2 linked regions of the Homo sapiens genome follow. The protein of the gene in region 2 interacts with the protein of the main gene of each other region in a pairwise test. Each region holds a gene or a part of one and is shown on either strand. Other genes may lie near its edges. The genes, in order: LITAF and VILL.

The links.
Region 1: the proteins of VILL (region 2) and LITAF interact in binary tests that used the Homo sapiens proteins (3 or more experiments, as listed by UniProt).

What each region holds. Positions count from the first base shown.
Region 1 is NC_000016.10:11,569,895-11,585,552, forward strand, and holds part of LITAF (lipopolysaccharide-induced tumor necrosis factor-alpha factor), read right to left. Parts: intron 7,099-15,658; exon of another isoform or gene 5,512-7,098; intron 1-5,511.
Region 2 is NC_000003.12:37,981,522-37,997,778, reverse strand, and holds the start of VILL (villin-like protein), read right to left. Parts: upstream 6,994-16,257; 5' UTR 6,950-6,993; intron 6,646-6,949; exon of another isoform or gene 6,607-6,645; intron 4,193-6,606; 5' UTR 4,107-4,192; coding exon 4,047-4,106; intron 3,882-4,046; coding exon 3,807-3,881; intron 3,642-3,806; exon of another isoform or gene 3,519-3,641; coding exon 3,313-3,518; intron 2,041-3,312; coding exon 1,932-2,040; intron 703-1,931; coding exon 592-702; intron 297-591; coding exon 94-296; intron 1-93. Other genes in the region: CTDSPL (CTD small phosphatase-like protein), read right to left, coding at 15,888-15,954. UniProt on the Homo sapiens protein: Possible tumor suppressor.

The sequences.
Region 1 (15,658 bases), on a different chromosome or scaffold from region 2:
GTGGTGGTGCTTGAATGTAATTCCAGCTACTTGGGAGGCTGAGGCAGAATTGCTTGAACCTGGGAAGCGGAGATTGCAGTGAGACGAGACGCACTGCTGCACTCCCGCCTGGGCCACAGAGCGAGACTTTGCCTCAAAAAAAAAAAAAAAGTTAAAATGGCAGAATTTTAAGGCAGGTCAAACCTTTAAGAGCAGAAACTCTAAGACCCAGGCTCCTTGGTTCAAATCCCAACTCTGCCACTTCTACGGTGTGCAAATGGGGGTGAGTTGCCAAATTTCTCTCAGGTTTCCTCATCTGGAAAATGGGCCAACAGTAGTACTTACACTTCAGAGGGCTGCTGTGAGAATGTAGTGAGCAAAATACACCGGAACATTGGGTAAGCAGGTTACTATTATATCAACACACAGCTGTCATTACAGAGGAGAGTAAAACCCAGGGAGGGGGTGACTTTCCCACAGTCACACGGGGGCTTCACTGTGAGAGGCAGGAGGACCCAGGCACAGACCTCATCCCGCCACAGGGACCTGTTCTGTACCCAGTACCTCCACGGCTTCACAGGTAGACATTCACTTGTTTGGCTAAATCCCCTACAGTCTGACCTTCCCACCCCTACCCGCAGTGTGGGCGACAGAATAATGCTCCCCAAAATTGTTCACAGCCTAATCCCTGGAAGCTCTGAATATGTGACCTTAAGTGGTAAAGACAGACTTTGTGTATGTGATTAAGAATCTTGAGATGAGGGGGTTATTCTGGATTAACCAGGTAGGCCCGGTGTAATCACAAAGGTCCTTATAAGAGAAAGGTAGAGGAGTTCGAGACCAGCCCTGGCCACATAGAGAGACCTCATCACTACAAAAATTACAAAAATTATCAAGGTGTGATAGCGCACATGTATCATCCCAGCTACTTGGGAGGCTGAGGTAGAAGGAGGTTGGGGGGTGGGGTCTAGGGGGTTGAGGCTGCAGTGAGCCACAGCTGCACCACTACACTCCAGCCTGGGCAACAGAGCAAGACCTCTGTTGGGTTTAAATGTAGAAAAAGGAAGCTGTTGGCTTTGAAGGGGGAGGAAGGAGCCATAAATTAAGAAATGCAGGCGGCCTCTGGAAGCTGGGAAAGGCAAGACCATGGATTTTCCCCAGGAGCCTCCAGGAGCACAGTCCAGCTGACACTGCTATTTTTTGTGTGTTGTTGAGTCCAAGTCTCACTCTGTCGCCCAGGCTGGAGTGTAGTAGTGCGATCTCAGCTCACTGCAACCTCCGCCTCCCAGGTTCAAGCGATTCTCCTGCCCCAGCCTTCTGAGTAGCTGGGATTACAGGCACCCAACACCATGCCTGGCTAATTTTTGTATTTTAGTAGAGATGGAGTTTCACTATGATGGCCAGGCTGGTCTCAAACTCTTAACCTCAGGTGATTCGCCTGCCTCGGCCTCCCAAAGTGGTGGGATTACAGGCGTGAGCCACTGCGCCCAGTCGACACATTGCATTTAATCTGAGGAAGCCCACTGCAGACTTCAGGCTCCAGAACTGGAAGATACTACATTCACGTTACCTAAGCCACTGAGTTCAGGGTAATGAGTTAGAAAACTCATCCATCCACCCTCATAGCTGGGTTGCCCAGATTCCCCACTGGCCCTGCAGATTCTCAATGGGCACTCTTCCCCCTCCCACAGCAGGGGGCACCAGGCAGAGGTCAGACCCCCTCAACCTCCCACCTGAACCCCCAGGCATCTGTCTGCCCGCCCTGGGCTCAGAAGCAGCCCTCCTCCTCTGGTTCAAACTTCAATCTGGTGAATGTGGCCATCTCTAGGTGGGAGTGGGCCCTGTGGTCTCTGGGAGGGACTGTGCTCAGACAATGTCCCCTCTTGCCAATCACGCCCTCTCGGCTGGCTCTTTTCCTGAGGTCTCCTAAATGGTTTAATCTTTCCAAGCACGGTGGCTCATGCCTGTAGTCCCAGCACTTTGGGAGGTGAGGTGGGGAGATCACTTGAATCCAGGAGTTCAAGACCAGCCTGAGCAAAATGGCAAAACTCTGTCTCTTTTTTTAATTAGCCAGGCGTGGTGGTGCGCACCTGTAGTCCCACCTACTCACAGGGCTGAGGTGGGAGAATCACTTGAGCCCAGGAGTTTGAGGCTGCAGTGAGCTGTGATCACGCCACTGCACTCCTGCCTGGGTGAAAGAGCAAGACCCTATCTCAAAATAAATAAATAAATAAACAAACAAACAAATAAACAGATCAAAACAAAATCCCCCTCCTGCCTTAGCCTGGGTCCTCAGCCCCTCCAGTGACCTGCCTCTCCTCCAAATCCACCTTCCACGTCAAGACACTCCTGTTCCCTTCCTGCTCCCCAGGTACGCAGGGTCTGCACGAAGCCCTTGTGGTTCCCCCCACCCCTCAACCTCAAACGCATCAAGCTGACCACAGCCCTCCCCTAGACAACACCCCGAGTCCTCATGCATGAAATGATGCTCCAGTCCTCCTCAAAAGCAGGGAGATGCAACTAAAACCACACAGAGACAGATGATCGGGCTGAATATCGTCAGCGAGAAGTCACATGACATCACACACCAGCGAGAAGTCACATGACATCACACACCTGCTGACGGGACATCACACACCTGCTGACGGGACATCACACACCGGCTGACTGACAGGATGAGGTGAGAAGGGCCTCTGTGGCCTTCCTCCCCTAAACCCGCAGCCCCACGTAGTCATGAGAAAACCGGCCACAGGGCATCAGGCCAGCACTCCTCAAAACTGTCAAAGTCACGGAAAACAGGAAAGTCCAAGAAACTGTCAGAGACCAGAGGACAATGAATAGAGAGGTGACAACTGAATACAACGTAGAACCCCGGCACAGAAAAGCCTTAGTTGGAAAAACTGGTGATGTCCAAATAAAGCCTGGAGTTTGGTAAACAGTAACGCAGCGGTGTCAGAGAAGCAGTTGTGGCCAGTGTCCCATAGGGAAGTAGATGCTGGGTGACAGTAAATGGGAGCTCTCTGTATTAATTGTACCAATTTTCTGCACATCTCAAGCTCTTTTTTTTTTTTTTGAGACAGGGTCTCACTCTGTCAACCAAGCTGGCATGCAGTGGCGCAATCTCAGCTCACTGCAACCTCCGCCTCCCAGGTTCAAGCAATTCTCATGCCTCAGCCCCCTGAGTAGCTGGGACTACAGGCGTGTGCCACCACGCCTGGCTAACTTTTTGTATTTTTGGTAGAGATGGGGTCTCACTATGTTGCCCAGGCTGGTCCCAAACTCCTGACCTCAAGCGATCCGCCTGCCTCGGCCTCCCAAAGGCCAGGGGTTACAGGAGTGAGCCACTGCACCCGGCCATAAAAGATTTTTTTTAAACCCCATAACCAATGCCATGATATCATGATATCATTTGTCACCCATCCACCAGGCAAAGAGCAAAATGTTGGTAACACACACAGAGAGCTAGCCTGGGTATCGATAAACTGAGGCTCCTGCAACAGAAACGGCCAACCAAATTTAACATGAACAAGTCCAGCAACTCTTCCTCCAGAAATGTGTGCTGGCAATAACCCCCACATGTGGCTGAAATGACAAAATGACAAGCACATGGGGTATTCACTACAGCGTTGCTGGTAACAGCAGAAGCCTAGTCCGCCAGCAAGGCAAGGGTACCAATCAGGGATGGTCCCTCCCCACAAGGTACTGAAACGAGGAAGAGTTTTATTTGGAGAAATGCAATCACCACCAAGATATACTATCATGTTTAATGAGGCAGGAGAGTGTTTGTAGTGTGCCACCATTTGTGTATGGTGAGAGAAGAAGATATCCTTTTTTTTTTTTTTTTTTTTTTAGGAGTCTTGCTCTGTTGCCCAGGTTGGAGTGCAGTGGCGCGATCTCGACTCACTGCAACCTCCACTTCTCAGGTTCAAGCACCTCTCCTACCTCAGCCTCCCAAATAGCTGGGATTACAGGCGCCCACCACCACACCCAGCTAATTTTTGTCTTTTTAGTAGAGATGGGGTTTCACCACGTTGGCCAGGCTGGTCTCAAACTCCTGACCTCAAGTGATCCTCCCGCCTCGGGCTCCCAAAGTGCTGGGATTACAGGCATGAGCCAAGGTGCCCGGCGTTTTTTTGGTTTTTTTTTTGTTGTTGTTTTTAAAGACAGGTTCTCACTGGGTTTTTTAAAGACAGGTTCTCACTGGGTTGCCCAGGCTGGAGTGCAGTGGCATGATCATAGCTCATTGCAGCCTGGAGCTCCCAGGCTCAAGCGATCCTCCTGCCTCAGCTTCCAGAGCAGCTAGAACTACAGGTGTGCACCACCACACCTAGCTAATTTTTTTATTTTTTGTAGAGACGGGGTCTCAGTATGTTGACCAAGCTTGTCTCAAACTCCTGGGCTAAAGCAATCCTCCCACCTTGGCCTCTCAAAGCGCTGGCATTACAGGCATGAGCCATCATGCCTGGCCTAGTATTTCTTTATATAATATGCAAAAAATGTCTCCAAAGGCATACATAAGAAACTTAACGGTCGGTGTTTGTCGGGAAGGGAACCAGGTGGACTAGGGGATGGGGTGTGACAAACACTGGTCACTTTTACACCCTTGCTGGTCTTTTGTATGTTAAGCCATAGTAATATTACATATTTACAAAATACATACTTTTTTAATTAAAAAAGAAAGTCTCCTCTGCAAACCTGTCTCTGCCCTCCCCAGGCCTCCATCCTGGGTCCTTCCCGCCTCTGGGTAAAGGTGATGTCATCACAGCCCTTTGTGTTCCTGCCCAGCACCTGGCCCTGGGACCTTCCCTGTTTGCAGAGTGATTAAAGCTTCTAATTATTTCTATTTGGTAAGAAGACGTTCCCTTTACCACTCCCACTATATCAACCCCAAAATTTGCACTAACAACATCCTATTTGTCAATATAAAGTTTTTTTTTTCTCTTTTTTGAGACAGAGTCTCATTCTGTGGCCCAGGCTGGAATGCAGTGGCGTGACCTTGGCTCACTGCAACCTCTGCCTCCCAGGTTCAAGCGATTCTCCTGCCTCAGCCTCCCAAATAGCTGGGATTACAGGTGCATGCCACCACGCTCAGCTCATTTTTTTATTTTTAGTAGAGACAGGGTTTCACCATGTTGGCCAGGCTGGTCTCGAACTCCTGACCTCAAGTGATCCGCCCACCTCGGCCTCCCAAAGTGCTGGCATTACAGGCGTGAGCCACTGCACCCGGCCTAAAGTTCTTTTTTTTTCATGTTGCACTATGATCCAGTTTTCCTCCAGGGGGTTCTAAACACCAATGGTGGACAAAGGATTGAGAGATGTGGACCCTCCCTTGCCGGCCTTATGGGACCCATATAGGGAGGCAAAGTCAACCAACAGGGGCAGATGTGGGAGAGATATGAAGGGGAGACTGGGTATAGTTTCTTTTTTTGTTTTGGGAGGGGTACGGTTCCTAGGAGCGAGTGGAGGATCTGGGGACAAGGGCAAGGGGGCAGATCTGGGTACAGCGGGGACAGACACCCAGAAGCCATGTACCTGTGTCCCGTGGGGCAGGTGAGTAGTGCGGGGCCAGGAAAGTGAGGTCGTGTTACAGGAGCCTTCACATCACAAGGTGGGCACCAGCGCCTGGGTTTATGGGGGACCCCACCAAAGGGGCTTCTATTTCAAAAACCAGCAGTCCAAGAACAACTTGAAAACCCCCAGGGGGATTCAACTCCTGCCAAGAAGGAGAGTTCAGAGTCTAAAAATAAGCTTCAAAACCGAGAATACCAAGAGAACCACCCACCGCAGAAGCCATCCCAACAACTCGCGGTCAGCGTAAACACACATCAAAGGTCTCACGGCCCACGGCCAAGGGTGTCTTCTCCCGAGAACACAAAAAACCAAGTTGAAACACAGCAGAAACCCCAGTCTCCATAGCTTCTGGTGTTGCTTCATTCTGACCCACAGCCTCTGTAAACATTCCCCCGAAAAAAGTATCTTAACCTTTTTCTTTTCTTTTTTCTTTCTTAAACTGAACTTTGTTTTACAATCGGGGTCTCGCTGTGTTGCCAAGGCTGCAGTGCAGTGGCGCAATCATAGCTTACTACAGCCTTGAACTCCTGGGTTCGAGTGATCCTCCCACTTCAGCCTCTCGACCAGCTGGGACTCCAGGCACATGCCACCATGATTAGCTAGTTTTTTTAATTTTTAATTTTTTGTAGAGACGGGGTCTCACTATGTTGCCCAGGCTGGCCTCAAGTGATCCTCCCAAAGCGTTGGGATTACAGGCATAAGCCACTGCACTCAGCCTTAATCTTTTTCTAAAATCGATCCCAGCTGGGCACGGTGGCTCATGCCTGTAATCCCAGTGCTTTGGGAGGCCGAGGCGGGTGAATCACTTGAGGTCAGGAGTTCGAGACCAGCCTGGCCAACATGGTGAAACCCCATCTCTACTAAAAATCCAAAAATTAGCTGGGCAAGGTGGTGCATGCCTGTAGTCCCAGTTACTCCAGAGGCTAAGGCATGAGAATTGCTTGAACCTGGGAGGTGGAGGTTGCAGTGAGCTGAGATCGCACCACTGCACTCCAGCCTAGGCAACAGAGCAAGACACTGTCTCAAAATAAATAAATAAGTAAATAAATAAATAAATTCCCATATTCCCCTCTCCTTTCTTACAATCTGCAAAAAAAAAAAAAAAAAAAAAGAGAGAGAGAAAGAGAAAAAGAGAAAGGAAAGGAAAAATGCTTGTGTCCACATCTGTGGTTCTACACGGTCCCAGGCTGCCAACAGTCCAACATGGGGCTGATGGCGGCTCCATCCCACCAACACAATTTGCTACTTCAAAGCCTCTGAGGACTTGGACACCAGCAGAACCCAGCGTGCAAGGACTCTGTGTAAAGTAAGAGTTCATAGTTGCCGTGGGCGCCTCCTCTGAGTGAGGTAAACAGGCTTGGGCATCTGCTTTGATGATAAATATATACCTTATTTGGGAGTCTTCTATTTGCTTACTTCCTTTGTTCTGGCCAAATTCCAGATGACTGCAGGTAGTCCAACTGTCTGTCTTTGAAAATTCCAGAAAACAGCAATCTTGCCTTTAGCAAGACTTACGGATAATGTGGGAACAGGGTGGTGGTGGACATTGCCTGTCAAGCGCTTTTCATGCCTGTTTCACATCCCCTGGCTGACACCACATGATCTAGCCCTTGATGACATATGTCTTCCTCCTGCATCCTAATTGCTTCCTGTCTGCAAGTTAGCTTCTATTAATATTTCCCTAACTGGACCATATTACGTTACTCTCTGCCCACCCCAGGGGAAGGGATGTGATCTATATTTCCCCACGAGGGCTTGAGAAAGCCAAGTGCATCTGACATCCTTGCACAGCTGAGGTCTCCTGTGCCCATATGGCACATCTATCCCATCTATGACAGGGTATCTATGGCATCAGCTCATTAGAAGTGTCTATTTTTTTTTTTTTTTTTTTGAGACGGAGTCTCCCTCTGTTGCCCAGGCTGGAGTGCAGTGGCACAATCTCGGCTCACTGCAAGCTCCACCTTCCAGGTTCAAGCAATTGTCCTGCCTCAGCCTCCCGAGTAGCCGAGATTACAGGCACCCACCACCACGCCCGGCTAGTTTTTGTACTTTTAGTAGAGATGAGGTTTCACCATGCTGGCCAGGTTGGTCTCGAACTCATGACCTCAAGTGATCTACCCACCTCAGCCTCCCGAAGTGCTGGGATTACAGGTGTAAGCCACCACACCTGGCCAGAAGTGTCTATTTTTTAAACAAGAAAAGACAAATCTTCCTCACTGACAAATTCCAAATAGTATGAGTAGATACTCCCTCTCCAGGGGATGCACTTTTATTTTATTTTCTTTTTTTGAGACAGGGTCTCACTCTGTCACCCAGGCTGGAGTGCAGTGGCACCATTGGCACCATCATAGCTTACTATGGCCTCAGCCTCCTGGGCTCAAGCGATCCTCCTCCCTCAGCCTCTCGAGTAGTTGTGACTGCAGGTGTGCATCAACAAGCCCAGCTAATTTTCTATTTTTTGTAGAGATGGGGTCTTGCTCATTCCACTATTTCCAGGCTGGCATGCAATGGCTTGATCGTAACTCACTGCAGCCTTCAACTCCTGGGCTCAAATGATCCTCCCACCTCAGCCTCCTGAGTAGCTGGGGCTACAGGTGTGCACCACCACACTCAGCGATTTTTTTTTAACTTTCCATAGAGATGGGGGTCTCAATATGTTGCTCAGGCCGGTCTTAAACTCGTGGGTTCAAGTAATCCACCCGCCTCAGCCTCCAAAACTGCTGGGATTATAGGCATGAGCCATGGCACCTCGTAGGAGGTGGAATTTAATCTCTCCCTTTCCTCTCCTGTGTGTGGGCTGGACTCCTTGACTCTCTTTCAAAGAACAGAGTCGCCAGGCGTGGTGGCTCATGCCTGTAATCCCGGCACTTTGGGAGGCCAAGGCGGGTGGATCACCTGAGGTCGGGAGTTCGAGACCAGCCTGGCCAACATGGGGAAACATGTCTATATACAGGCACATGCCTGTAATCCCAGCTACTCAGGAGGCTGAGGCAGGAGAATTGCTTGAACCCAGGAGGCAGAGGTTGCAGCGAGCCAAGATCGCACCATTGCACTGTAGCCTGGGCAACAAGAGCAAAACTCCATCTATGAAAAGGGAAAGACAGTAAACTACAAGCGAGAAAATCTGGCAAATACCTCCTTTTCACTCTCTCTCTTGATATTAATTAACATCAGGAATACTTTACTCTCTCCCTTGATATTAACATCTGCAATGTCATGTGCATGTCATGTGCCCTCTGATGTGACAGGATGAGAAGGACACTTCACCTCCGTGGTCTTCTCCTCCCAGAACCCACAACCCCACTGTAATCATGAGAAAAATATCAGACAACCCTGATTTGAGGGAAATTCTACAGAATCCCTCATCTTCAAAAAGTATCTAGGTTATGAAAAACAAAGCAAGACTGAGAAACTAACATAGCCAGGGTGGCTGAGGAGACAAGATGACTAAATGCAATGTGGGGCCGGGCACAGTGGCTCATGCCTATAATCCCAGCACTCTGGGAGGCCGAGGCGGGTGGGTCACCTGAGGTCGGGAGTTCGAGACCAGCCTGGCCAACATGGGGAAACCCCATCTCTACTAAAAATACAAAAATTAGCTGGGTGTGGTGGTGCGTGCCTGTAATCCCAGCTACTCGGGAGGCTGAGGCAGGAGAGTTGCTTGAACCCGGGAGGCCAAGGTTGTAGTTAGCTGAGATTGTGCCATTGCACTGCAGCCTGGGCAACAAGAACAAAACTCTGTCTCAAAAAAATAAAACACAGTTTGGGAGGCCGAGGCAGGTGGATCATGAGGTCAGGAGATCGAGACCATCCTGGCTAACACGGTGAAACCCCGTCTCTACTAAAAATACAAAAAATTAGCCGGGCGCGGTGGCGGGCGCCTGTAGTCCCAGCTACTCGGGAGGCTGAGGCAGGAGAATGGCGTGAACCCGGGAGGCGGAGCTTGCAGTGAGCCGAGATTGCGCCACTGCAGTCCGCAGTCCGGCCTGGGCGACAGAGCGAGACTCCGTCTCAAAAAATAAAATAAAATAAAATAAAATAAAATAAAATAAAATAAAATAAAATAAAATAAAATAAAATAAAATATATCAATGCAATGTAGTACCCTAGGTTAGGACCCTGGCCCAGAAAAAAAGGACATCAGTGGGAGAACTGGGAACTCCAGATAAAGTCTGGAGTTTGGTGAACAATAACATACCCTCATCAGTTTCTTGGTTTGACAAACATACTGTGTGATGTAAGATGTGAATAATGGAGAGAACCAGGAACTGGGTGAGGAACTCCCTGTACTAACTTCACAACTTTCTTGCAAATCAAAAATTATGCCAAAATTAAAAGTTTATTTAAATACTTTCAGGGATCCCACTTATAAATGAGTCAGATAGGTGATGGGGCTCAGGACACACTACCCCAAAATATGACTGCAGGAGACTAGAACATGTCACCTCAGGATCTATTTCTTTGGCATATATTGAGCTGATTATTCTGAGAAACTGCAGACACAGGAGCAGCTCTGAAAAGCTGCCCTTTGATACAATAAATTGAAATCTACAGGTTGATTATCCCAAATGTGAAAATCCAAAATCTGAAACTTTTTGAACACAGACATGATGCTCAAAGGAAATGCTCATTGGAGCATTCTGGATTTTGGATTTTTGGATTAGAGATGCTGAACCAGTAAGTAGAATGCAGTATTTCAAAATCTGAAAAAAAGATCCAAAATCTGAAACACTTCCGGTCCCAAGCATTTCAGAGAAGAGATACTTGATCTGTGTAAAGGAAAGTGACTATCATAGGACCCTCATCAACCAGTGAAGTTTTTTTTTTTTTTGAGACGGAGTCTCATTCTGTGGCCCAGGCTGGCGTACAGTGGTGTGATCTCAGCTCACTGTAACCTCTGCCTCCCAGGTTCAAGTGATTCTCCTGCCTCAGCCTCCTGAGTAGCTGGGATTACAGATGCCCACCACCACACCCGGCTAATTTTTGTATTTTTAGTAGAGACGGGGTTTCACCATGTTGGCCAGGCTGTTCTTGAACTCCTGACCTCATGATCCACCCACCTTGGCCTCCCAAAGTGCTGGTATTACAGGCGTGAGCCACCGTGCCTGGCTGGAAGATCTTAACTTAGGAGAGGAGACTGAAGGTCGACACCTGGTCACAAGCCATCACCTGCTCTTCTGAGGCTACTCTGAGACAACTTTCATCATTCAAGAGGCTTTTTATCTGCATTAACAAGGCAACCTTTGTTCACCATACATTTCCTCCCCTTACCCTTCTATAACCTATCACCACCTGCCTCCAGGAGCCCCAGGCCCCTATTCCTTTTTCTTTTTTATTTTGAGACAGGGTCTTGTCTGTCACTCAGGCGGGAGTGCGGTGGCACTATCTCGGCTCACTGCAGCCTCGACCTCCCAGGCTCAAGCGATCCTCTTGCCTCAGCCTCCAGAGTGGCTGGGATCACAGGCATGAGCCACCATGCCAGACTAATTTTTGTATTTTCTGTAGAGACAGGGCTTTGCCATGTTGCCCAGGCTGGTCTTGATCTCCTGGGCTCAAGCGATCCTCCTGCCTTGTCCTCCCAGAGTGCTGGGATTACAGGCATGAGCCACCACGCCCAGCCGCTTATTCCTTTTTCGTAGCTCAGGCACACTACATAAACTTCAATTATCTGACCTTGCTTTGAGTTTCACTTTCTGTGGGACTCCCACATTTATGCATGGAATAAATTTGTATGTATTTTCATCCGTTAATCTATCATCAGTTTATTTCATAGGCTCAATTATGGTACCTTCAGAAGGCAGAAAGAAAGTCTTCTCTCTCCCCTACATAGGCCAAGAGTAAGAAAAACTATAAGGTGAAATGGAATAGGCAGGTCTTACCCCAAAGCACTCAAGTTCAATTTAAAAAAACAAAATTTGAGTGCTTTGGGGTGAGGCTCATGCCTGTAATGGCAATACTTTGAGAGGCCAAGATGGATGGATCACTTCACTCCAAGAGTTTGAGACCAGCCTGGGTAACATGGCGAAACCCTGTCTCTACAACAAAAAACCACTAAAATTAGTGTGGTGGCTGAGGTGGAAGGATGGCTTGAGCTCGAGAGGGAGGTTGAGGCTGCATGGAGCTGTGATCACGCCACTGTACTCCAGCCTGGCCAACAGAACAAGGCCCTATCTCAAAAAATATATAAGTAAATAAAGTATATTTTGGTTAAATGCCAAAGACTAAGTGGGGGGTAAAGGAGAGTTTCTGACACTTCTAACTGATGAGGTGAAAAATAAAAAATAAAATAAAATAAAAAGATACCTAGAATTTCAGCAAAAGAACAGGTTTTAAAGGAATCTCCCAAACTCTGCCCAGCTGAATGCATATTTACACCTGACCACAAGTCCGCACTCCCCTCGAAAGGTATTTCACAGCTTCCACAAAGGAAGGACGACAAAATTGAGCTCACAGAAGTAGAGAAAAGAACTGTGGTTACTGGAGGTTACAAAGGGGAGGGGAAGAGAGGCTAGAGAGAGGTTGGTTGATAGGTACAAAGTTACAGTTCAATGGGAGGAATAAGTTCTACTGTTCTGTAGAACTGTAGGGTGAATATGGTTAACAATTATTCAGTGTATATTTTCAAATAGCTAGAAGAGAGAATTCTGAATGCTCACAACACAAAGAAATGATAAGTGTTTGAGGTGATGAACATGCCAATTACTCTTTGATCAATTACACACTGGAGACATATAAGAAAATATCACTCTTTATCCCATAAATGTGTATGATTATTATGTGTCAACTAAAAATAAAAGAGAAAATGGTCAATGGCTTTTTAAAGGGTTTGAAAACAAGAGCAAGATATAGTGAAATATCTATTTCACTCACAACGGAAAAAAAAAAAAAAAAAAAGAACTCCCCACAAAGCTTTAGCCACATGTGGGTGGTAAACTCTTCTAAAAATATATCCTCAAGCTGTGTATAGAACTGTTTTCTACATTTGGGTATCAGATCAACACATAAAAGGGCAAGGCCTTCAGAAAGATAAAGCGGCTTTTTAACTACCAACTTAATCCTCGAAGATCGATTCTTCCAGGAAGAAAAAGGAGAAATATTCAATTCTACTCTGGTCTCCATCTCCCAGCCCCCAGAAAAGAAACACTAAGCTAGGCCCATGAATATGTATATCGCAGAAATGACCCCAGAATAAAAAAAGGGATTCCTTAGGCAAAAGAAGGGCACTCACATGCAAATTGTCAGGTCCCCTAAGAAAATAGCCTAGTTTGTAAACAAGAAAGAGAACCAGCTGCGAGGGTCAAAAAGGTCTGGTCTTTTAGGGTCTCTGGAGAAAAACGTTATTTCCAATAATGGGAGCACAGTGGATCCTGACTATAATCAACTTTCAGGAACTATCCAAATTGTACACTTATTAAATTGAATATTGCTTAAAATTCTTAAACTAAGGAGGGTCACCTGGCAGGTTTTAAGCTACAATAATTCTGCAATACGGTTTTTGTTGTCATGGAATTTAACCTGTCTATCATTCCTGAAAATGTTCAAGGTGAATGGTGCGTCTTAAGCCATAAATGGTTAAGCAGGAAGGTAGACAAAAGGGGAAACCCGGACCTCCAGCTCTTTGGGAAAGGAAGCGAGAAATTGGCCTTTGGTTATTTGATCCCAAACAAATTCCAGTTTCAGTAGACCTCAGTAAAAGTACAGAAGCTCAGAGTGAAATATTTCAGAGAAATGTGTGCCAATTCCATCTTCTGAGTTCAGGCTGTTTCTGCAGGGCGGTATGTCCCACAAGTCAAAGATAAAGTTACCACAATCTTAAAGCCAGGTTCAAGCATGGCGTAATGACAAATCACAGTGATTTGTGGAATGGAAAATGCTTCCATCGGGGAGTTGGGCTGCTCCCCCACAATCAGAGTGGGCAGTTTTCCTCTGGACTCCTGGTGAAACCACATCCCTAGTTTCCACGTGAATCACAGTTTTTCATCAAACAGTGCAAGGAGATCATTAATAAGACTGAGACTGCATTAGGATACAAAATTGTATGAACGCTGATGACAATTTCATAGAAAACAGGCACAAAGACAAAAGACAGAAGCCGCCCGATAAGGACAGCCAGTGGTAGTTGTTTCGTTCTATAAGATTATGCCTTTCTTCTTTATCTTCCACACTTTAATATTTTTTAATAAAAAATTTCAAACTATCAGTGCATCATCTAGGAATAACCTCATGGATTCAAGTTTAAGGCAAGACATCATTAAGCTCTTAAACTTACCTGAGGCACACTGTCAATTAAATCTAAGGCTCCATGAGCTAAATAGCTTAAATTCTCCAACATTATTTTCTCTGAAGCCTCCAGCTTTGGATCCTGGTATATAAACTCCTACCTACTGCGAGGTGAGCAGAGAATTACCATCACATAGACACCCTCCAGAATGGTTCCTTTCTTGTGTCCATGCCTTAAGCTCTATGAAATTACACAATTCTTCTACTGAAATAACCTGCAGCCAAGGGACAACTTCATTAGCTACAAAGCTGTTGTCACCTGTGTCCAGAGTGTCAATCAATACAGGCTCAAACAACAAGATGAAATTATGAGGACCCTGGAAAATGCCACTTGACCTCAAATAACAATTCTTAGGCAAGTAAACATCAATCAAATTCAGAACAGACCATGGGTGGCCAAACAGACCCGGGAGACGTCAAAAATATGTGTGCTAAAGAAACACAGAACTAAGGAAGTCTATTTACCTGATAGACCGCCTCACCCACGGGGCTATTTTCACTGCTGTAAAAGCGAAAACAAATAGAGGACAAGTCACAGTGCCAAGAATACAGGACTTCCTCTTGCAGATCCTCTTTTTTCCACCCTCACTGTAGCTCTGGGGAAATTCCTATTCAGTGGGAGAAGTTTAAGTCACAAAACGGCACCAGCCCATTCTCAAAGTGCTATTATACACCTCTGAGCAGTGAGGATGGGTAATGTCAGCAAAATATGCACTGTTTATTTTCTTGAAAATTAACTTGGGCTGGAAACGCCTTCCAGCTCCTTCCTCTCAGTGGATTTTCCATTTACTGTCTTCAACCACCTGGGCTTGTCTGTACCTCTTCCACAGCTCTACTGAGACCCTCCTGTTTGTCTGAACTATGTCCTCATGTTCCTTCTGCCACATGTGCTCAGGCCTCAGTTTTTCCATGAAACTTTCTCTAACTTAGCTGCCTCCTTTCCACTGTTCTCAAGCCCTTTCTGGAGTTACAAGGGCATTAGCAAGCACCAGCTTTTTCGCCGGTGTGTGTTTCTACTTTCTACCCATTGCGTAAACCCCTCAGGACCAGGAGCCATTCTTCTGCATCCTTTACACGGCAAGGGTAGCGCTTTATTTCTCAACAGCCCGCCCATAAAAGGAACGGAAGTAACAAAGGGAAATGTATTCCCCAAAGACAGTGAATTACACTTCAATCTACTATTTTAGAGACTTAAGAAATGGGCCGGGTGAGGTAGTTCACACCTGTAATCCCAGCATTTTGGGAGGCCAAGGCAGGTGGATCACTAGAGGTCAGAAGTTCGAAAACAGCCTGGCCAACATGGCAAAACTCTGTCTCTACTAAAAATGCAAAAATTACCTAAGCATGGTGGCACCCAACTGTAATCCCCGCTACTTGGGAGGTTGAGACACTAGAATTGCTTGAACTCAGGCAGGGGGTTGAGGTGGGGTGGGGAGGGTTAGAGGTTGCAGTGAGCCGAGATCGCACCACTGCACTCCAGCCTAGGCGACAGTGAGACTCTGTCTCAAAAAAAAAAAAAAAAAAGAAAGAAATTGATCCTACGTCTTAGATCAATCACCCAGTCACTTAATCTGTGAAAACATTACAAGATACTTTCTCAAATGTGAATAAATGCATCAATTATTCATGCCTTAAAGTAACAGGAAAGAGGGAGATGGGCCTCCCTCATGGTAGATTACAATTAAATGTTTCTTAGAGAGTTTGGTGCACATTTAGTTCCCAGAGCAAGGGCTGGTGGAGAAGAAAGCCAAGTGCAATATGGGTGTTACTCTATGCCAGGTAAAGCAAGTCACACGCCATCTAGATCCTGCTCCAACTGATAAAACCA
Region 2 (16,257 bases):
AGGGCCTTCTAGAGATGCCGTGTTATTGCAGTAGTGATGGACACAGAGTCCTGGACTGTCCCACCCACCCCTGCCCACCCCAGGGGTACTCACTGGTACAGGCGAACATTGGCCTTCTGCAGCTGGTTGATATCCTTGCTGGGCGTGGCGGCACGCAGGCTGCCCACCCTGCGGCCCAGCACAGCCTCCATGATCTGCATGAGGTCCGGGGCTTTGGCCTCATCATCCACCACACCAATCTGTGCACGACCACCACCACGTTCCCTGTCCCGGAGGCTGTAGGTCAAAGCCAGCCCCTGCGGGAGAGGACCTGGGAGTCAGGGTGTCACCAGTGTGCCCTCTCACAGCAGAGACTTCTCCTGTCACTGCTCAGCTCCCAGAGGCTGATGGGGAGAAGGGCTGATGTCCCCTCATCCTGGCATCCAGGGGGACACCAACAATGCAGGGTCTGAACTCAGCTTGTAACTCATAGGCGTTTCTTGGGTTGTAGCAGAGCCAAGCCCAACTCTTTGGGTGGCCGGAGGATGGTCAACTGGAGGATCATTCCCCGCCCAAGCCCCGTACTCCCCAGTTCCTTGGGCAGACACTGACCCGAGCCTTCTCAGAAATGCTGGTCTTGGGCCCATTCCACTGAATCATCATCTTGCCTAGGTCCAGCAGGAAGATGTCACCCTTATTAAAGCTGTTCCAGGAGAGCTCCACCTGCCAGAGCCAGGGAGAGAGACAGAGTGTCATACCACCAGCATCCGCTAGAGGGGAGCATAGCTGGGATGTGTCACGTGTGCATGAAGCTGTATGCAAACTGGGTGTACGTAGGCATGTGTGACTGTAGATAATGCTGCATTCCACAGGGTGTACATGACTTATGACACTTCTCACTCAGTGCATGTCTGTTGCTGTACATGTATACATGTACACATGTATACAGGTGGGGTGTATCTGTTTATCTTTTGTGTGTGTGCATATACACATGTATGTATATGGGGACATCACATGTGAAGAAGTGTGCTTATGGTGACAGTGAATACCTATGGATGAAGATAGTCTCCAAACGGACACACTTTTGAGAGTAAAAGGGAGTACTTTAGATAATTATGCCAGGATAATAGGAGAAACATGGGGCTTCATGGTGTCCCTGAATGACCAGAGATGTATGGTCACTGGGTCTGTGGGTGACATGCAGAGCCTATGTGGGATTGTCTCTGTGTCACAGGCTGCCTATGCAGACTCACTTGCATACCTCAAGGGTTACCATTCACACTGTAGACGTTGTACACCTGAATGTTCATTACACCAAATTCTGGCCAGATGGCAGCAAAATGTTTTGTTCTAACAAAACCAGTATTTTCCTGTAATTTCCTGACAGATGGAAGAAAGGGGCACTGTTCTGATTTGCACAAGGGCACTCTATGGACCAGAGGAGCACCCGGGGATAACAGTGGGAGACAGTGTGTGTGCATATAGGTGACAATGACAATGTGTGTGAGAGAGTGCGAGGTTATGCACCACCTCTCACTGTGCTGCTAACAAGGACCATTCACAGGCGCCATATCATCTGCCCCATCTGCCCAAGTTCTTTTTTTGTTTCAGAGACAGGGTCTTTCTCTGTCACCCAAGCTGCTGGAGTACAGTGGTGTCATCATGAATCACTCCTGGGCTCAGGCGATCCTCCTGCCTCAGCCTCCCAAGTAGCTGTGCCCATGTTCTCAATATGTCCCTGAGATAGACGCATAAACAAAAGGTCCGGGGAGCAGTGGCAGAAGTGGGGCTAGAAGCCTGGTGTCCTCTCTGTTCTCCTCATTCAAGACCATCTGGGAATGCTGACAGCTCCTTGTTCCCCACAACCCCAGCCAATTTCCAACCTCCTTATACCTCAGTACACCCAGTCTGAGCCGAGTTCAGAGGTCAAGAGGCTCCCCTGGCAGCCTCACCTCAGTGGCAGACACGTGCTTCCTCCCTTTGATGTGCAGCAGTCGCTGGATGTTGAACAAGTTGGTCTCCACATGCTTGAGGTCAGATGCTAGGCCTCCCTTCCTGTAGCTGAGGTGGGAATAGCAGGAGGGTATATACATTCTGTGTATATAAGAACACAGACTGCCATGTGCATGAATGACTGCAGATGTGAGCACGTGCACGTATGTGCCTGCTTCATACATGCACTGGAGTCTGTGTGAACACATGTATGTATAAGTACATGGGTGCACACATAGGGCATGAGTGTGCATTCATTTCCATGTGTAGTGCACTTCCATGCGTAGTCATGTGGACACATGCATATATGTGTACATGTACATACATTTGGGGGCACACTGTGTATTTGTTTATCCCTGTAAGTCTAGATGGTGAGTGCATGAAGGTGGGCAACAGCATATATGTGTGTAGGTGAACATGGATATTCACACATGTCCATCTATAGGTGGACATACATGAGGGTGGTGTGTGTTTCTGCATCTGCGCATATGTTTGTGTGCATGTGTTCATGTATATGCTATATGCATATATAGGTTCAACTGTATGAAATGGAAATGATCAAATAGCAATTTCCTATATTTCCAAATATATTGCTAGTGTTAATTTAAAACACCTGTGAAGCAATTTACAGCGAAAGATATATTCCTACCAGCACAGTAACATAAAAGCAAACTCAAAACAACATTGGTGTCTGCTCCTAGGTATATACCAAGGGAAATGAAAACATTTGTCCACACAAAAACTTGTATACAAATGTTCATAAAAACAGATTCATAGCAGCCAAAAAGTGGAAACAACTCAAATGTCTATTAAGTGATGAATGGATAAATAAAATGTAGTATATTCATAAAATGCAATATTACTTGGTAATAAAAAGAAGTAATAACACATGCTACAACATGGATAAACCATGAAAACAGTGTGTTAAAACAAAAAGATCCCGTCAGGGAAGACCATTTGTTGAATGATTCTATTTCTATGACATGCCCGGAAGAGGCAAATGTATAGACAAAGCAGATGAGTGGTTGCCTAGGGCAGGGGATGGGGGTGTTGGAGGGAAATGGGGAGTGGTGGCAAAGGGGTATGGGGCTTCTTTTTAGGGTGATGAAAATGTTCTAAAATTGTGGTGATGGTTGCACACAACTGTTAAAAATCACTGACATGTATATGTACTTTAAATGGGTGAATCGTATGGCGTATGAGTTGTATCTCAATAAAGGTGTTACCCAACCCCTCCCGGCTTGCCCCATTCAGGGATGTGGACGATGGCCATCCCAAGACTGCCCCAGCCAAGGCACCGCCTCCACGGCTCCCTCCTGCCCCGGTCGCCCCCGCACTCACATGATTCCCGGGCGGAAGTAGCTGCAGAAGCAGTCGGACTCGTGGCCCTGCGCCTCGCGGTGCAGCACGGTCTGGCCCCCCAGCTCGTCCTGTAGGCGCTGCTGGAAGGCCTCCGCAGCGCCCTGCGCTTCCGCACCCGCCTGCTTCCCGACCCAGTAGTGCAGGTCGCTGGACGCCCCCTGCGTGGCCTTCGGGCTCTGGGGGACCTAGGGTCCGGGTGTTTGTGTATATGTGTTGCGGGGAAGACGGAGGTGCGGGTGGAGAAGGGGAGGATGTACCAAGGGCCATGGGGAGACGCTAGGCAGGGGCTTCCGCGGAGATCAGGAAGTGGGAGGGAAGGACTAAGAAGCCTCAACGGTAACCGCCCCCTTGTGGGATGTGATTCTCCGGCTCTCAACTTGCCGCTTCCCAGGGCAGAGTTTATGCCTGTGCCTCAGTCTCCCCAGTGCCGGGCCATGCCACCCCTCTCAGGCAGACTTCCCCAAGCGACTCACGTGGAGGATGACATAGCAGTGTTCCTCAAAAAAGTTCCCGTAAGCCCCCTCGGGTACCGGCACCATCTTCCGGTTCTGGGAGAGGAGAGTTCCCTGTAACAACTCAGGAGGCCTCTACCCATGACACCCGCTGGGGTGGGGTGGAAGAGGACGCTCTGAGTTGGGGGCGGGAGAAGCCTAGTGTGGAAAACCCCACGCTCTTCCATGTCACCAACTCTCCTATTTGGTCGTGCCTCTCACCTCAGAGATCCATATGTGGAGGCCTCCCTGCATGCCTGGGAGGCCCTTGCTGATGTCCATCGCAGGCCAGGCAGGAATATGGGACGACACAAGGAACAACAGCCAGAGTTCTCAGGCTGGAGACCGACACCTGGCTACCTGTACAACTTCATTATAGAACATGACTTTTATTAGGAGGGCTCTGTAAACACACAAATGTCAGCACACAGACTATGAAGACTCAGATTCTGCAGCAAGTGACAGGCTCAGCTGATATGAGTGGGTTGGGCAGATTAGGCATAAACACTTGACAATTTTTTTTTCCAGTTTTTTCGAGACAGGGTCTTGCTCTGCCACCCTAGCCTGCAGTGCATGATTCGAACACACTTCACTGCAACCTCCACCTTCTGGGTTCAAGTGATCTTCCCGCTTCAGCTGACAAATTCTTGAAACAGAGCTGAACTCTGTATAAACACAGGCTCTGCAAACAGCCACAGGCTCTGCAAATAGCGATTTAGCTTGCTCGAGTCTGTGCTCTGTGGTTCTGCGCGTGCAGAGAGGGAGAGAATGAGAGGGCAGTGAATGACAGTGACATGGAATGAGAAGTACCTGGGGGAAGGAAGGGACCCTCACTTCTGTCGATTTTGTTATGTCTTGGCACTTCATATTCAATTACCTGAGGCTTCCCTGCACCACTCCTTCAGAAACCTGTGTGTGAGGTTTGGTCCAAAAGTCACTTCTTTCTGAATCTCTCACTCAGGGTGACCCTGGTGTGTTAGTCCTTCCCTCCTCCCCCTCCACTCCCACTGTGTCTTATCAATAGCAGGAACACCCTTGGCTCCAGGCAGAACAAGGTGAGGGGACAGAGTTACAGAATCAGGTGTGGCACAATAGGTGTCATAGAGTGGCTCACATTCCTTACACCTTTGTCAGGGCCCCTGGTTTGGCCCTGGTGAGTTCACAGTACACTGTGGCAACACCCAACATGTAGCCAAAGAAATGTGGGAGCGGAGGAGGCTGTGGGGCAGGGGAGCAGGGGCAGAGTGGGCTGTCCTTCTAGGGGGTTAGAGCTGGGTCCGTCACAGCTCACAGCTCCTCCCGACACCCTATGGAAACCATAGGATGGTTGTTGGCTATGGTCTCCCTCACCAGAGCAGCAGATTCCTGAAGGCAGGGGTTTGTCTTGTTGTTTACTGTGGGATCCCAGCTGCCCGGCCCCCAGCAGGTACTCAGTAAGTACTTGTTGAATGAGTGAAGTGTGCTGCCCTGCGACTGGACTGAGTGAAAATGAATAGAGAAGGGAGCCGTCCGTGCACCCTAATTGCCCCAAGAACTGTTGCCACAGTTGATGGCCTGTTGGTGTGACAATGACATGAGTGACAGGCAGACATAGTGGCCATGAAAAGGTGATCTCAAGCAACAGAAAACGTGAGGACATTGGGTGACAAGCAGGATGTCCACCAGTGGTGGCCCCGTAGAAGGACACTGAGTAATAGGCAGAAATAGTGACCAGTGACAGTTACCAGAGGCCCAGGCAGGCAGTGACCAGAGGTGCAGACAGAAACTGTGAGCTGTAGCTCATGGAAGAGTACAACATGGTGACAGAGTGCCAGAAAGACTACTGGATGGCCTCAGAACAGTGTCAACCAGGGCACATGGGGGACTGGAAAGTCAAACTGGCAGCCAAAAAGTTGGGACTCGGCTGGTGTCACTGGGAGAGGCAGCATCGCCCCCAGGGGTCCGGGAGCCCGTCTGATATCCAGCCCCAGCCCGTAGAGCCAAGCCCTCAGCTGCCAGGGCTGAGGTCGCACTCGCATGGCACCTGTGTTCATTCTCTTTCACCTGGACTCCAGGGAGGAATGGGTGCTCAAAGATTGGGGGCCTCCTCCCTCCCCACAGTGCCACCTCCAGCCTCCCAAGCCCTCCTGCCCTCTTTCCTCAGGGGAACCCCCCACAGTGCCCCCTCCAGCCTCCCAAACCCTCCTGCCCTCTTTCCTCTGGGGAACTCCCTTTCACCACCTTCCCAAGTGGGAACCCTCCTATCCCTGGTCCTCTCCCTTCTCCTAGAAGCCCTCCTTCTCTTCCCTGGGGGTGCACTTCCTCCACTCAGGGCCCCTTTCTCTTCCGGATGCCCAATTCCTTCCCTGGTTTCCCTTTCTCTCCCCATGCCCCACGCCTCCGCTTTTCCAGGGTTTCCCTCTGTCCCCACTGGGTGCCCCTGCCTCCCCCTGGTTCTTCTTTCTCCCCTCTGATTTCCCCTCTCCCCTGGGATCCTTCCCTTTTTCTCCCATTTTTCCTCCCCAGGCACCTCCTCCTTTCCTGGTTCCCTGTCTTCCCCTACACCCCTCCCTCTCTCCCTCCCCACCCTCCTCCCCAGGTCTTTCCTTCTCTTCCCCAGGCTCCCCTCTCTTTCCCGGGGCACTCCCTACCCGCTTCACACACCCCCTCTTCTCTCCCCCTGCCCCTCGTGTCCCTGGGTGCCTCCTCTCTCCTCGCTTTCTCCCTCCTCCAGTGCCTCTTTCTCTCCCTACAGGAGCCCTTCCTTCTTTTGTGGGTACCTTTGAAGGGAGCCCGAGATTACCTTGCTCAGTTTCCATGGAGCAGGGAGTGGTGCCGCCCTCTAGAGTGAGGGGAAAGGAGGATGGGGCCAGGGTTGGGGGCAGGCACACTGAATTTGTGGGCCACGGACTTCCCTGCCCATCTACAAAATCTGCCACTTTCTTCCCCTTGGGCTGCCGGCCACAGCTGCCCTGCCCCATCAGTGTTTTCACCTGCTGGGCTGCTGCCGCCTCCCAATTCTGCCGCGGAGGCTCTGTGGCCCTGAGCCCTGGGACCCTATGCTCTATGCCCTTGACTTGAATAGCCCACTCTGCCCCACTGGTTCCCTGGAAACCCCCGCCCCCCAACTCTCTGCCCAGGCCTACCTGCTGGAAACTGCTCCCGCGCCTTCGCCCTGCCTGTGGGCAGTGCTAGGCCTGGCACGGGGCCAGTCTCTGCCTCCCTACTCCTGGTCCCCACCACTGTAACTCAATCCTAGCTCCTGCCCTGCAGGACACACCCCACCACACAGTGCTCAGCGGGCTAGGCATTCACTTAGTCAGCCAGTCAACAAATATCGAGCAAGCCGTCGGGACCAGCGCCCTCCCCAGGGCTATGGTTAAGTCTCCCAGGTCTCACTGCCTGGGTACCAGTGGCCAGAGAGAGCAGGGGATGGAGGCCTGGACTGGGCTAAGAGGTGGGGTGTGGAAGATACTGGGATTTCCTTCTCTGGAGTACTAGATGGGCCCCTGATCCCTCACCCGGAGTGGTGGGCTCCGCCTGGACCAAGAGGGCCAGGCCACTCCAGCAAACTTTAGGAGGAAGTAGGACCAAGGCTGGGGGCTGTGGGGTCAGGCTCTGTGAGACCCAGCTCACTTCAGGAGGGGAAGGTGGTCAGGGCTCCCTCTAGATATTTCTGCTGTCCCTACCCAAATGTGAGCTCACTGCCTGGCACAGCCCTCCTCAGGGAACCCTGATACCCATCATGGGAGAGGCCAGTCCAGCTCTTGCAGCGAAGACACCTCTCCCTCACCTCAGCTGCCACTCCACTGCCACTCTCTCTCTCTCACTGTGGGGTGGAGGGGCTGCAAACAGAGCCTTCCAGAAACTCCAGGGGCACAACCTCCTCTTGGCGGCTTAGGGCCTCAGTCCCAGCCAAGGCCCAGCCAGCGTGGGCCATCCCATCAAAGCCACGCTGCTAAAGCCTGCCCACTGCCCAAGACCCTCTCCCTGTGTTCAGTCTTCACCCCACAAAGGTCTCTGTTACAGGGGTCTGGGGACTTGGGGACTCGGGGGCAGTCTGTGTCCAGCAAGACCTACAGCTAGTGTGTGACTGTGTTTAACAGACACAATGCAGGGTCCCTGTGTGTGAAGGGATGCCTGTGTCACAGGCATTTGGCTCGTCCCCATGTGTGCCATTGCCTGTCCGACCTCATGTGTGTGCCTGTATCCTGGCATGTCTGTCTGATCCCCACTTGGGACAGGGACCCTGTCTGTGACAGTGGCAGTGTGTCCACTGTACCTGTGCATACCCGTTTCCCTGTCCCTTTTTGTCTCTGTGCCCAGGAAGACTCTGTGTCCTCACTTCTTCCCACCGACTCTTCCCCCATCTCCCCTCAGCCCACCCGCTCTGTTTGTTCTTGAATTCCCTGGCAATGGCTCTTTCCTAAGTCACCAATGCCCGCTGTCAACCAAGCGGCAGTCAGTTCAGTCACCATTGTTCCTTCCCCTCTCACTCCACCTGTCTCCTTCAGGCCTCTAAATGGCAGCAGGAGCAGAGCTTGGGCCTTCACTCCTGTTTGTTTTCCAGTTTCCTTCCCAGTTCCAGTCTGAAGGCTGCAAATAGCATGGAAACGCCAGTGTCTCCCTGACCCAACTCCCCCGAACCTTGCCCCGGCCTAAGTCTCCATCTTCCGTCTGTCACATCTCTCCCAGCACGTTTGGTCTCACATTTAACATCGCCTCAGGCCCCTCCCAGATCTACCCTCTCTGAGCCCCAGGAACACGTTCAGTGTGAACATCCAGAGGGTGCTTAGGCCCCAAACCTGGAGTTGCCCTGATTTCTCTCTCCCGCAAGCCACTGGCCCGTCGGCAGCTGGTTCATGGTGGATCCTGGGCCTGGCCCTCCCTCTCACGCCTCCTGCCTGCTCCGGAGCCAGCCTCCCTCTGTGTCTCTGGGTCTGCCTGGCCGCTACGACCATCCTACCACAGTAGCCAGAGGGATCTTTTTTCCTAAGATTTAAAAAAATTGTGGTAAAATATAAAAAATCTTTTTTTCACAAGATTTAAAAAATTGTAGTAAAATATACTTAAAATTTACCATTGTATCCCCTTTTTATTTATGTATTTATTTGAGACAGAGTTTTGCTCTTGTTGCCGAGGCTGGAGTGCAATGGCATGATCTTGGCTCACTGCAGCCTCCGCCTCCCGGGTTCAAGTGATTCTCCTGCCTCAGTCCCCTGAGTAGCTGGGATTACAGGCATGCACCACCACACCCGGCTAATTTTGTATTTTTGGTAGAGACGGGGTTTCACTATGTTGGTCAGGCTGGTTGCGAACTCCTGACCTCCAGCGATCCACCGGCCTCAGCCTCCCAAAGTGTTGGGATTACAGGCGTAAGCCACCACGCCCGGCCTGTATCCACTTTTAAGTATACGGTTCTGTGGTGTTAAGGACACTCATATTGTTGTGCAACCACTGCCACCATTTCCAGAACTCTTTCATCTTACAAAACGGAAACTCTGCAACTCTGCACCCATTAAACATAGACTCCCCATTGCCCCCAGCCCCTTGCAACCACCATTCTATTTTCTATGATTTTGACTAACTAGAGGGAAAATTCAACCTCAGAATTTAACCATAAACCCGCTCACATCACCCCCCTCCCCAAACCTTCCAGTGGCTTCCACTAAAACTGGGATGAAACTCTCAATGGCCGTTCCCGGCTGCCTCTCCCATCACTCTCCCCATGGCTTACTGTGTTCTGGCAATATGATTCCTTGTGTCCCTTGAAGACGCCCAGGTCGTTGTCTGCAGACCTTTGCACTGCAGGCTTCTCTGCCTGGAAGCCCCACTCTCTATATTCCCGTAGCTGCTCCTTTACTGCATTTAGGTCCCAGCCAAAATGGCAGCCCCACAGAGGGCCCTTCCCGCCCTCCTTAGCCACAGCAGTCTCCCTCCTCAGACATCACCACTTTCCTCATCGTGGTGCTCCAAGAAGCTGGTCTCTTTGCTAAGTGGGATCTTTGGTTAGTGTCTGTGTCCCAGCTGGACTGTGAGTCACTGTGGGCAGGGCCTTGCTGTTGTCCACCTGTGTCTAGAACGGTGCCTGGCGCACTGCAGTTGCTTAATAAAACGTTTGCTGACATGTTTCTGTGGCCTGCGCCTGACCCAGTGTGTGTGTGTGTGTGTGTATCTGGACCCTTTACTGGGCTCAGTCCTCCTTCTCTGAGAAGCTGAGGGGGTGACCCCTTTCCACTTTGGTTGTGGGCCAGATACCCCAGCTGGCACAATCCAGTGTCAGCAGCTTAGTGGGGGGCATGAGAACTTCTCCAAGGCCCCAACCCTCGGAATTGTCTGGGTCTCTGCAAACCAGAAGATGTCACCTGGAGAGAACTGCCCTGTCCAGAACCACCTACTCTGTAACCTGTGATCCCAGGCCCAGGATAGATGGCAGTCTGGCCTTAGAGCCTGGCCTGGGGCCAAGATGAGCAGCACTGCCTTGAGTCTGGCCTGGACAGCCTCCGGCTCATGGCTGTCACACCCCAGGCACACAGAGGGGAAACTGAGGCCCAGGGCAGGCTCACAGGCAGCTGGGTGCTGCAAGAATGGGAGGGTGGGATGCCTAGCCTTCCCCTCCCTCCTCCCCCTAGCAGGAAAGGGGTCCCACCACCCCATCCCCATCCCCACCTCCACCCCTCTTCAAGGGGGCCTGCCAGGAGTCAAAAGGGCCCTGGGCAGAGTTTGCCTTGCTAGCAAAGCCCTGCCCTCTTCCTGCCCCAGCCTCCCTTCATCTACCACCCCCTCACTCATCAAGTTTCCAGGGCTTGGGGCCTACTTTGTTCCTGCCTGGCTTATCTCCAAGGCCCAGCCCGCTCCATGTCAATATTGACCCAGGTGAAGGAGTGGCCCCAAGATAAGTCCAGGCTCCGCCCCAGTTTCTCTGGGCTCAGGCATCCTATCCCAGGCTTCATCCCCCAGGCCTTCTCCAGTCTTTCCCAGGCAGGTGCAGAATGTTGCCTCTCGTGGTGGAGTCCGGGCTCTGTGAGGAGCGTCCCTCTCTGAGGGCAGACAGGGATGGGGAGTGAGAACTGTTGACTCAGGTCCTGGAGCCCACTCCTGGAGATGCCCTGGCTCCTTGCGCTGGAGGGGAGCAGCCATGGGCCCGCATGTGTCCCCACATCTGGTGGTCCCGCCCTGGGCTGCAGGATGTGGAAGGAGCTGTGGCAATGGTCACTGGAGCTTGCATAGGCTGGAAGTGACTCCTCCCGAGGACACCACGGGAACAGCTGGGTGAGAGGACAGACCAAACACCAACCCTGGGCCCCTGCAAAGAGGTGTCACTGCCTTGCCCACTGTGGTCCTGCCCAGCAGCACGCCCACCCATTAGGACCCAGCTTGGGTCAGGAAAGCCCTGGCCTGTTGGAAGGGTGGTGGTGCAAGGCTGGGGTCCGTGCCTAGTGGGCAGTGTGATCCTTCCAATGTGTAGTGGGGGGCTCCACTCTGCTCCCCACCTGTGTGAAAGCAGGTGCTGTCAGCCAGGCAGGGGTCTCACCAGGCCTCCCTCCTCACCCCTGCCTTGGGAAAGGCTCCCAGTGCCCAGGTGGGCTTTTCTCTGTACTTTTCTGGATTTTCCAACTTTTTAGCAATGAACATGTATATGGCTGATCTTTCAGGTAAAGCAACACGTCATTTTCCCCAAAGCTCTGGCCACAGCTCCTTTGCCACACCTGGGCATCAGGCCTGGAACAGTTTCGGAGGACTTGCCTTTCCTCTGTAGCCAGTCAGAGCAGGGGGTCTCAGCCCTGGCTGCCCTTTCCAGTCATCTTGGCACTTAAAAACATGACGCAGGTCCCCATATGCAGAGATTGGAAATGGTCTGTGGTGGACTTGAGGGATGTATGTTTGAGACCCCTCAGGTAATTCTAGGGTACAGCTTCAGCCAGAGCTGAGAATCACTGCACCAGGAGAGGGAGCTGTAATGGAGGTTTGAGGTGGAAAGCTCTGGGGCCATGTCCTCCTCCCGATGGCCTCTGTTCTCAGAGGTCAGGCTGGTGGCCATGCCAGTTGATGGCTCTGGGCCTTGAACAGTCTGCTGACCCACAGCCAGCCCTGACACAGGAGATTTATCGTGCAAGCATCCAGGTTACTCCACAACTCGGCCACAAGCCCTCAATGCACTCCTTATCCATAAGCTCAACAGAATGTTCGTCAGCTGATGTGCCACTGTTCCCAGGCTGGCTTTTCCCAGCCACTCCTTCCCACCCTCCTGGGCTTCCTGCCCATTCCTTGGTCCTGTAATACACACAGATGATATGTGCTCAAACTAGAAAACACGGAAGGGCATATCTCAGCATGTCCAAGTCCCAAATAAGTGCCCTCTTGATGCCCCGTGTGTCCTTCCCACCTATTTCGGGGACCAGTGGACACTCATGAGGATACCTCAGCCTCAGGCACTGCCACAACTCTCAGCCTTTTATCTGTTTGCCTGTATGCAAAGGTGTGAAGCAGTGGGGTACAGGGTTGATGCCAGAGAAGGTGAGAGAGGGACAGAGAGGGCTGGGGAGCAGAATAAAGGACACAGCCTAGGAGTCTGGAACCAGGGGAGGAAGCTGCAGTGACTTCTCTCTGGCTGGCCAGCTGCTCCACTGTGATGACAAAGAACCTAGGGGCACGGCACAGGCTTAGCTGTGGGGTATTTGGGGTTTTGTCTCTGGGTAAATATTAGGTCTCCTGGGCTGATACACATACTGTGTCCTGAGTTATTTGGGATGAATATACATGCCTGGTAGAATCCTGTATCTTGTGATAGAGCAGACTGCAGAGCTTTGTCTCGCTGGCCTGTTTTCTCATCCACAAAATGGGGATAAGACTTACCTTATGAAATTGACACTGGTGCTATCCGAATCAGATATCATGAAGAGAAAGAGTCCTGAGAGTGGCGAAGCCATGTCCAAGTCCCTGCCAGGAGTCTCTAGCAGAGGAGTCGCTGCCTCTCTCACCTGCATGTACAGAGGGACTGGGTTCAGGGCACTGGCGACAGAATGTCTCACTGCGAGAAACTGCCTGGGACATCCTGACTCCTCTTCCGACTCCTTGCCGTGCTTCATCGGGCAATCATCTTGGCCACTGTGCCCATGGGTATGGGTATGGGTTTAGGCACCACATATAATGCCTGTGGTTCTTATGGAATGGGAGGCCCCAGTTCTCTCAGGCTGCATTTTCCAGCCTGCTGGGAGGGCTGGAATCTTTGTGGGAGAAGAGTGAGCCATACTGCTTCCGGAGGGAGGAAGCCAGGGGGCTGAACAGCAGTCACCCTTGGAGTGACAGGCAATTTGGGTGGGATGGACGAGCTAGAAAATCAGTCTGTGGCTCCTGGAGTGCTGCAGCCCCACTCCCATCCACCCCTGTTCCCCGGAAGTGGGGATACCAGGAGACCCAAGGTGATGGCATGAGGCTGCGCAGGAGGCGGGGAAGGGAGGGAGGAGAGGCGCTTCTGGTAGAAAAGTAGTCAATCCACAAAAGAGTGCAGTTTCACATGTTTATTTTTGGCAGGAAGGAAATCATTGCAAACCTTTTGATTGACAATACTCGCCCCTGGAAACGTGCACATTCCGCATGTAGCATTTCCTAAGTAATGCTGGATTGTTTATCACATTCAAATGTCCAGCAGAAATCCATGACTACCCAGACACCAGCATCTCCACTACCCGGGGTGGGGGAGGGTGTGTCAGTCTGCAGAGAAGCTCCTGGGAGAATGGAACAGGAACAGACATGATCAAAGTTACAGTACAGTAGGAACAGAGGCAGCCAGCCAATTTTGCACAGTTAACTGCAAGTACGTCAAGCCATTCACTCTTCTCGAACCCTGGCATGCCAACTGTCCAGCACAGCACCTTTAAAAGCAGAGGCACAAACGTAGGATTGTTTGACCATAGGGCTGTGTGGTTCTGGATTTTTTATTAGAAAGCCATCTTTAAAAATACAGGGTTGTAAAATGTTGCCAGGTTACAGACTTACAGGTTTTTTTTTTTAACACCAAAAGTTCAAATGCTGCAACCATGACAAGTCAGCATCATTAGGGCATCCTCGTGTCCCCAGAGACATCTCATCAAAATTGCACCACGTCAAAGGAGCTTCCTCACCATCAACTGTGGCAGGTGGCATTCCTTTTTCAGTATGCAAATGCATTATTTACAAACAGCTAATGCATGGAACCACAGACCAACACGTAGGATTCCAGAACAAATGGAAGACAGAGCATTAACAACATTGGGAGTGCCTGTGCACTTCCACTGGAGGCCTGGCCAGAGAAGTAATAACATCATAGTGGGCTGCAGTCCACAAACCCAAGGTGTCCTGTCCCAGAGCTCAATGTCAAAAATACTTCTCCAGAAGACTACATTTAAACCTGGTACAGAAAGGAGCATGGAAACTCAGGAGGTCAGGGTTCTCTTTTGGCTAAAGAGTTGGGGGTATTTTGGTAACATGGGAAGTATATGGCACAGAGAAGTGGCTAACAGGTTTCATTAGGTTTCAAAGCCCACAATTTAATACATGGTAATAATTAAAAACAATACCCGTATTTACCTTAAAAAACATAAACCCCAAACATTCGTCTCATTTCTTGGCCTTATGTTAGAATTCTATTGCTTCATTTACATGTAGATGATTAAAAATATATAGATATAGATATAGATATAGATATAGATATTTTGATTATGTACATAAAGCAGATTCAAGGGTTAAAATAAAAACAGAATTTTGGAGTGTGGTCAAATAAGGTGCACAGATTCCAGAACCCTCAGAGGGCCTGCTGGCCCTCTCCAGACATTCTGTGTCCGTGGTGCAGGAGCTGGGCCCGTCCCTAACAGCTCCGCACTGGCTTAGTGCAGTGGTGCTCACAGTTTCAGGAACTACTAGGTGAAGTGTCTGGCTCAAGTCTGCCAAGTGTCTTCACTCCATCGTCAGAAGTGGAGCACTATCCCTAGGTTCGATTCCCATGAAATATTTTATGATTTCCATCCTCTTTGCCCGCTCTTCCAAATAAGGCCCTGTGATGCCAACGAAGGGGGCATGGTTGAGGGTCTAAGGCTCTCATTAGGGCCTAATTCTGTGTGGATATCAACACATGACAGACACTTGACTGCAACATTCAAGACATTTAAGGCAGTGGGTTCATTTAATGACTACTTTTCCAAATAAATATTTGTGGCATGGGCAGTTCTACCATGTAACTGTCATTATCTGTGGTAATATCTAGCAAGGGGCTGTTCTATTTGAATTGGCATGTGGATTACTGGTTTGGAACACTCAGAATGCTGGGAGACCTGTTTACCCCCTGAATACTTACTTCCCTTCTGAATATTCACACAGCAGTCCACAGACCAAAGTGCTGTTGGGAGGATGTAATTGGCAGCTGGCTTCATTACTTTGTGAATGAAAGCAAAACAAAGATATTTTACTTTGACCCCCGATTTCCAGTCTTGTTAATGCCAGTCACTCCCACCAGAATGCTGGCTGAAGACCAACCCACAGAGGACTAAGGCAATGGTGCCAATATGAAAGGGTTCTTTTTAATTGTTTTTAAGAGCAATACTTTACAGACTGTCTTGTTGTCAAACAAGGAACATGGCACTGCTTAAACACCAAACTGGGAAAGGCTGCAAAGAGAGCCTGGGCTCTCCCTGTGGGAGCTCTTCCTCTCCCTGGTTTGGGGCAATGAGTCCCACATCTAGACAGGCTTCCCCAACCCTTGGCTCAGAAATAGGCTGTGCTTCAAAGGAGAAGACCAAGAGATGGACTTGGGCCACATCAGCTTGGTGGCTGGTTGAGGCCACAGGTTCTCAAGAGAGAACAGTCAGCTTATTTATCAAACAGGATCTGATACTGACTGCAGTTTAAAATCCATGCTACACCTAAGTGGTGCTGTGGTCCTTTTGCCTTTGTACCCTTCAGTGGCCAATGCCAGGAAGGGGTTACAGGTGGTGGAGGCTGCAATGGGATGGGACACCTCTGTTTCTGACCCTGTCCGAGTTTGTAGCTTAGCAGTGAGCATATTCTGAGCATAGGCACAGTGGCAAAGAACAGTGTAACAGCCGCTGGTCAATTCCATTTGGTGGCAGCGCGGTAGCAGCAAGGAAAATTCCCAAACAGCTCCATGTGTATCCAGCTTTTGGAAAGGAAAGATTTAAAAATCAATAAACAGATTTCTTTTATATCCAAGGGTTTTAGGGTTTCTTGTAACTGCTCTACCCAAACAATAACAACAAAAAACACAAATGTATGGCAGTAGTGTGAGAGCAGAAGTGACAGGATGTCACTTTTCAAGGAGAAAATGTGACCTCAAGACAAACTTGTCACCATCAGAAATAATAATATAAAATAATCTATTGTTTCCTAAAGTGTTGAGCCACACAATTGCAGATACATTCCAAACTGGGTCAAAAATGAGTGGAGACAATGACATAGTCAT